2 linked regions of the Homo sapiens genome follow. The protein of the gene in region 2 purifies or fractionates together with the protein of the main gene of each other region. This does not show direct contact. Each region holds a gene or a part of one and is shown on either strand. Other genes may lie near its edges.

Evidence for each region. The genes of interacting proteins can lie anywhere in the genome.
Region 1: the proteins of CHRM4 (region 2) and PIGM purify together in Homo sapiens (affinity purification with mass spectrometry; 2 studies listed by BioGRID and IntAct, with this or other methods). This does not show direct contact.

Annotation. Positions count from the first base shown.
Region 1 is NC_000001.11:160,029,191-160,033,381, forward strand, and holds the start of PIGM (GPI alpha-1,4-mannosyltransferase I, catalytic subunit), read right to left. Parts: upstream 2,801-4,191; 5' UTR 2,550-2,800; coding exon 1,278-2,549; 3' UTR 1-1,277.
Region 2 is NC_000011.10:46,383,289-46,386,032, forward strand, and holds the end of CHRM4 (muscarinic acetylcholine receptor M4), read right to left. Parts: coding exon 1,830-2,744; 3' UTR 501-1,829; downstream 1-500. Other genes in the region: MDK (midkine isoform a precursor), read left to right, coding at 181-206. UniProt on the Homo sapiens protein: The muscarinic acetylcholine receptor mediates various cellular responses, including inhibition of adenylate cyclase, breakdown of phosphoinositides and modulation of potassium channels through the action of G proteins.

The sequences.
Region 1 (4,191 bases), on a different chromosome or scaffold from region 2:
AGTTTGTGTAGGACCACAAACATTAAAGGCAAGATGATAGTTTTAAAAATGTAATAACTCAAGTCTAAACATGAATGAATTTAAATTTAATCCTTTTTGTATGAAACCAAATAGCAGTCTAATACCACTGGGACTAAGTGCTATAAAAGTAAGTAATAAAACAAATACATGAAACATGATTACAATTTAAATTCTTTGGATTATCTTTTTTTTTTTTTTTTTTTGATATGGAGTCTTGCTCTGTCGCCCAGGCTGGAGCGCAGTGGTGCCATCTCGGCTCACTACAGGCTCCACCTCCGGAGTTCACGCCATTCTCCTGCCTCAGCCTCCCGAGGAGTAGCTGGGACTACAGGCACCCACCACGCCCGGCTAATTTTTTGTATTTTTAGTAGAGAGGGGTTTCACCGTGTTAGCCAGGATGGTCTCAATCTCCTGACCTCGTGATCTGCCCGCCTTGGCCTCCCAAAGTCTTTGGATTATCTTGTAAGACCCCACATTTAATATAGAAGTTTAAAACTCTCTAAAATAATACTACTAAGCATCTTAGTATTATTTAATACTTTTCTATCTAAAAAGTTGTCCTTTCCTTTTTTTTTTTTTTTTTTTTTTTGAGACAGGGTCTTGCTCTGGGCTCAAGCAATTCTCCCACCTCAGCCTCCCATGCAGCTATGACTACAGGGGTGCACCACAACACCTGGCTAATTTTTTTTTTTTTTTTTGAGACTAGGTCTCACCATCTTGCCCCAGGTGGGTCTAGAACTCCTGAACTCAAGCGACCCTCCCACCTCAGCCTCCCAAAGTGCTGAGACTACAGGCAAGGGCCACCATACACAGTTTAAGAATATTTTTTGGATTTTCACAGCTGTCAGGAAAGCTTTAGAAAGAAAAGATGGGTGTTAAAAGTTAAGACACAGCTTAAGACAGAAGCATTGTAAAACAGGAACAAATACTGGCTTAAACCTGATGTCTCTAACTATATTCCTCTATTTTAAGAATGTTTTAGTATCTGATAGTTTCATCAGCCTTTCCATTTTCCAATATGTGACCTTTATTCCCACCATGTCCCAAATAAACGAGTCCTAGGATTTCCTAGAAGGTGGACCTCAATTATTGTGTCCCTTTTATATATAAGGCAAACATTGCTTTTAAGTTCTGTTGGAACATGGGAACTTTCACTAGAATGCTTAGAATGTTCAGAAAAAATGTCCCAAAGCTCTCTTCTGGTCCATACAAGACAATCAGAATGTAACACAGTAGCAGAGGGTGTGGAACATACACTAGTCATATTTGATTCTCTCTGTCAGGGGTTCTTCTTTGTAATGGGAAATAATTTGAATCAGGATGGAACAATTGATAAGAAGAAAGAACAAACCAGCTAACCAAATAAACAGAAAGGTGTTCTTTCCTTGAAACTCTAGAACATAGGCAGGAGCCAGCCACATGGCCTGCCCTATAAACCATAACATTAGGAGAACTACAGCTCTTTTCCAAGGCATTCTGACTAGTGGCATCACAAGAGGCAGTAAGCAGAGGTACCAAAGAAAGTACTGGGAGGTGCAGACTTTGTTAAAAGTCACAAAAATGGACGTATGAAGAAAACAACAAAAAACGAGGTCTCTGTAATAGGCGAAAGACACAGCTGAAAGCAAGATGAGCTGTGGCAGGAATGCAGCAATTCCCAGGGAAAAACTCCACTTGCTCTCTGCAGTCAAATACAGCATGTAGAAGTACGGAGAAAAGTTGTGACGGATATCCCGCCTAGTCAGGTGATAAAAGTAGGTGTGTTCCAAAAATTCCCAGCCGTACTCATAGTAAAAACCAAAGCTCAGGGCAAAAAACGTGAGTCCAGCAACTGCTACAAACAGCAGCACAGCCCGATTACACAGCCTTTTCAGGAGCTCGTACAAACAAGCCTGGAAAGTGTACCGGAATTGACGGAGGCTTTTGTCATTGTCGCGATCTGGAAGCAGGTGGAGGGTTATGGGAAGGATGTAAGTCACTGGATATATCTTCATATGCACCGCGAAACCATAGAATACAGCTGCACACGCGACGAGTCTTTTCTTTATCAAGTAGAGGACCATCAGGACCAGGGAGGCGACAATAGAGTCCGCATTACCGCGGCTGGATACTGCCATAGGCAGGGGGTTAAGAAGCCAAAAGACACAGTAGCCACAAGCCTGGCGGCGCCCCAGCCCCTTCAGCAGCAGCAGGCGGTATAAGAGGAAAGCGGTGAGGAGGTCGCAGCTGATGAAGAGAAACTTTCCAAAGAGCTCGCTGAGGTAGATGTTGGGAGTGAGGAGCCAACCCAGCAGCGGGGTGTAACGGTACGTGGCTCTCAGGTAAGGCGAGCGCCCCTCCGTGACGAAGCGCGCGGCGTCGGTGAAGACCTGGTAGTCGATGTCCGTATACCTCACGTGCAGGGTCCGGTCCTGGAAGACGCCATAGAAAACCAGGGCGACTCTGGCTAGAAAGGCCACACCAAAGACGCCGGCTGGAGCCACCTTCAAGTTCAGGAGCCATTCGCCCCAGTGCTTGGTGGAGCCCATGATCTGACCGTGCGACAGCTGCTTAGCCCCAGCTCCAAACTGCCTTCGTACTTCTAACCTTCCCTTCGGTTCTTTGCAGCAGGTGGCCGCCGCATCTCCCACCCGCCAGGCTGCCAACCGAAACGACTGCAGACTATCACATCCGGCATGAAGCCCCGCCCCCGTACTGCTACCTGTCTCCAGCCCCGCGCGGTCTTCTCAGCCGCCCGAGCCAAAAACTTGCCTTCCTCTGGATGGACGGTCTCGCTTCCGCTTCTTCTTCCAGCGGAGGCGGGATTTCCGGTCCGTGGGAGGGGAGACGTCCGCTTGCCGGGAAATCCGGCACTGGCTTGAGGATTTTATGGAGTGGAGTGAGATTTCTTTGTAAGTGACAGCCCGCCGCCCCCCGCCCTCTTCCCGCGCCCCATTTCCAGTCCTCAGAGGAAAACCCTCCGACGAGCAGCGAGCTGCGGGCTGCGCGCTACATCCTTCAGTCCTGGGCTGGAGATCCGAGAGTGAAAAATGTAGGAGTGAAAGGAAGATAAGCCTTCTCATGCTTTACTCCACTAGCTCGCCGGTATTCACCGGGGATTTGTGGGCCCCGGACAGGACAGGATGAGTTGAAGGGGGCTGAGTGTGTATGTTCCATGCAATATTGGAGGCATACTTATATTTTTAAATTACTAGTTGGTAATCAGAGATTCAGATTTAAGTGGGCAGCTTGTATTTTATCCGGCAACCCTAGGTGAAGGTGATGGGAAAGAAGACAGGAAAGCGTCACAAAATTCCTTAACTTGTCAGCCCCTTATGCCTCAGTATCTCTGTATTTGCTATTTCTTCTGTCAAAGTTGCCATCCGCTCTCCAATCACTCTGGCAAATACCTACTCAACCCTTCAGGCATCAGTGCAAGTGTTAGCTCCCAGCTCCCACTCACTTCCTCATCACGCAGAATGAATGACTTAGATGCCAGTCCCCTCCCCTGTCCGAGGATAGGTAGACTGGGGCGGACGGGATCTAAGTTCCAGAAAATCACTCACACAGAAGACCCTGCCATGCTACTAAAAGTTCTCCCAGTGCTCCAGAACTCCCTGGTCATTCCTTTGTTACAGCATTTGTCACACTGCTTTGTAATAACTGTTTTTGTTTGTTTTGCTCTCCTAGTTTTCCATCAGGACACTTTCAATTCTTCGGTATCAGAGATTATCTTGTTCTTTTCTCTACCTCAACATCTAACACAGTACTAGTAGCCATTCAGTAAAGTTGAATTGATTTTAGAGGTTCCTCCTACCAGAATATTTCTAGAGTGGCATCTTTGGATTGCTCCCAACTCCCAGTTATTTTCCCTTTTAAATATCCTTTATGTATGTCAAGGTCCCCTGCTCCCCCCACCCCACTCCAACCCTACTTCCATGAATTTCTTGCCAAGGACTGTAACCCATTAGCTCTTCCCTTTCCGTGGTTACTTAGTGCACTTACATAGTCCGCATTGTAGAATTTGATACTTTATTTTAGATTGTATTCATAGCCCTCACAAGAGATTATAGGGTTCTTGGGGGTAGAAATTATATCTTATCCTTAATTTTTTTCAATTATGTGTAATTTATTGTAGTCTTAGGCACATGGTAAATGCTTAGTAAATACTGACTAATTGGATTTTATAGA
Region 2 (2,744 bases):
ATGTCCCATGTCCACATCACAATGGCTGCCCCATCCCCTGCTTCCGAGTCAGCTGATTGGAAACCACTAGGGGGCAGAATCTTCTCCTTCCCTGATGCCCGGGTGTTTGTGGAGCCGGCGGTCTGCAATGGGTCAGCCTAACTGCTGATATGGTATTAATATTTCTTTCTTGTTTTACAGCCAAGAAAGGGAAGGGAAAGGACTAGACGCCAAGCCTGGATGCCAAGGAGCCCCTGGTGTCACATGGGGCCTGGCCCACGCCCTCCCTCTCCCAGGCCCGAGATGTGACCCACCAGTGCCTTCTGTCTGCTCGTTAGCTTTAATCAATCATGCCCTGCCTTGTCCCTCTCACTCCCCAGCCCCACCCCTAAGTGCCCAAAGTGGGGAGGGACAAGGGATTCTGGGAAGCTTGAGCCTCCCCCAAAGCAATGTGAGTCCCAGAGCCCGCTTTTGTTCTTCCCCACAATTCCATTACTAAGAAACACATCAAATAAACTGACTTTTTCCCCCCAATAAAAGCTCTTCTTTTTTAATATATAAAAGCCCCTTCCCAAGGAGTTTGCTGTGGAAATGTGTTTGGGAGTGGGAAGGTGGGGAGAAAGACCAGGCTGTAGGGACTGGTGGGTTTCAGGGGGCTTGGTGGTGGGTGCTCTCCAGAGCTCATGGAAAAAGCAGAACAATTACAAACATTTCTTCCAGGGCCCCTGAAAGGGTGCTCCCCATCAAGTCACCTAAGCCTTTCGGTCCTCATCTCCCTCAGGGACCAGGGCTGGGGAAGGGAACCTGGCTGACTCACTGGAACCACCACACCCATCTCAGCCTCACCCAGTCAAAGGTCTTTTGATACAACCCACAGCCAATCAGGAAGGTTCTACCCATGGGGGAGAGCAGATGCGAGGGCTGCGTGCCTACCTCACTGCCCACCTCCCCCCTTCCCACTGTCATGGAAACCCGAGTGAGCCACCAGGTTGACCCCTTTCCTCTTGCCTGTGTGACCCAGGCCTCCACCCTGCAGAAGCCAGGGGGTGAGAGGTTTGAAGAGGGCAGATGGGAATGCCATCCACCACAGCCTCACCCTGACTCGATGTGTGACCTGGGACAGCCTTCTAAGGCCGGGGCTGCAGGGGGCTGTCTTCTGAATACGTGGACCACTCACGGCTCAGCCTGGGATCGCAGAAGGCCAGACCTCAGTTCCTGAGACAGAACCTCTGACCTCCCAGCTGCCCCATCTTAATGTGACAAGGGCAGTGCTGCTGGGGCGGGGGGGACCTGGCCTCCATCATACCCACCCAGAACCTGGCTAAGTAGCTGCAGCCAGAGGAGATTTCTGCCCCTGGAGTGGGATTTGGGGAGAGGGGGCTGAGCCTACATGCGGGGTGCAAGGGGGCAGAAAGCACCGATTACAGCAGAATGGGGGACCCCACCCTTCTACTCCCTTCCCAAGCCTCCTTTTCCAAGCACTGGCCCCTTTGTTCTTCCTGAGGGGGCCCTGGGCTTCGGCCCCCATCCAGATGTCCATTCTTCCAGCACTGCTGATGGTTGGTCACAGTGGGGCAGGTGCCCACCCAGGCCAGTGCCCCGCAGCTCGCTGAAGCAGGGCCACAGAGGTGGGCCAGGCAGCCCCAGTTCAGACACTCCCTGGGGTGAGCCTCCTCAGCCTGAGCAGAGATCTGGTCTCTGAATGCAGCCACAGAGCCTCTTCTGAACTTCCTCCTCAGCAAACGTGAACGCAGAATGGTGCCTGCAACTCTTCCCCACAGCAAGTGAGCCGTGTGGTCCCCCCAGCACACGCACGCAACACCAGCACCTCCTAGGGCACTCCTGCCTGCCTACCTGGCAGTGCCGATGTTCCGATACTGGCACAGCAGCAGGTGCCGGAAGGTCTTTTTAAAGGTGGCGTTGCACAGAGCATAGCAGGCAGGGTTGATGGTGCTGTTGACGTAGCAGAGCCAGTAGCCAATGGACCACACCGTGTCAGGGATGCAGCTCTGGCAGAAGGTGTTCACCAGGACCATGACGTTGTAGGGCGTCCAGGTGAGGATGAAGGCTAGCAGAATGGCAAAGATCGTTCGTGTCACTTTGCGCTCCCGGGCCGCCATCTGCCGCTTCTTGCGCACCTGGTTGCGAGCGATGCTGGCGAACTTGCGGGCCACGTTGGCCGCAGGGCGCATGCCAGCCGGCGTGGCAGGCACAATCTCAATGGCTGTCACACACTCATTGCCTGTCTGCTTCGTCACAATCTGGATCTTGGACCATCTGGAGGCTGGGTTGAGGGCCCGCGGCTGCAGGGGAGGGGCGGGCATGGCGGGCGTGGTGGCCTCTGTGGTGGACAGCTCTGTGGCTGGGCGTTCCTTGGTGTTCTGGGTGGCACTGCCTGAGCTGGACTCATTGGAAGTGTCCTTATCAGCCACGGGGCGCGGTGGCGGTGGCAGCGCTGGCGGGGGGGCCTCCTCCAGCTTGCCATTGCGCAGCTCCTCCCGGGCGGCCTCCCCGGGCGGGGGCTTCTTGACGCTCTGCTTCATTAGTGGGCTCTTGAGGAAGGCCAGCGTCTTGGCTTTCTTCTCCTTCGGGCCCTCGGGCCGGTGCTTGTGGACTCGGCTGCGACTGGCCAGGGAGATGTGGATGTACAGCACCGTCATGATGACCACAGGCAGGTAGAAGGCAGCAATGGCTGTGCCAAAGGTCACTGCTGGGTTGGACAGGAACTGGATGAAGCACTGGTTGTCGGGCACCGTCCGCTTACC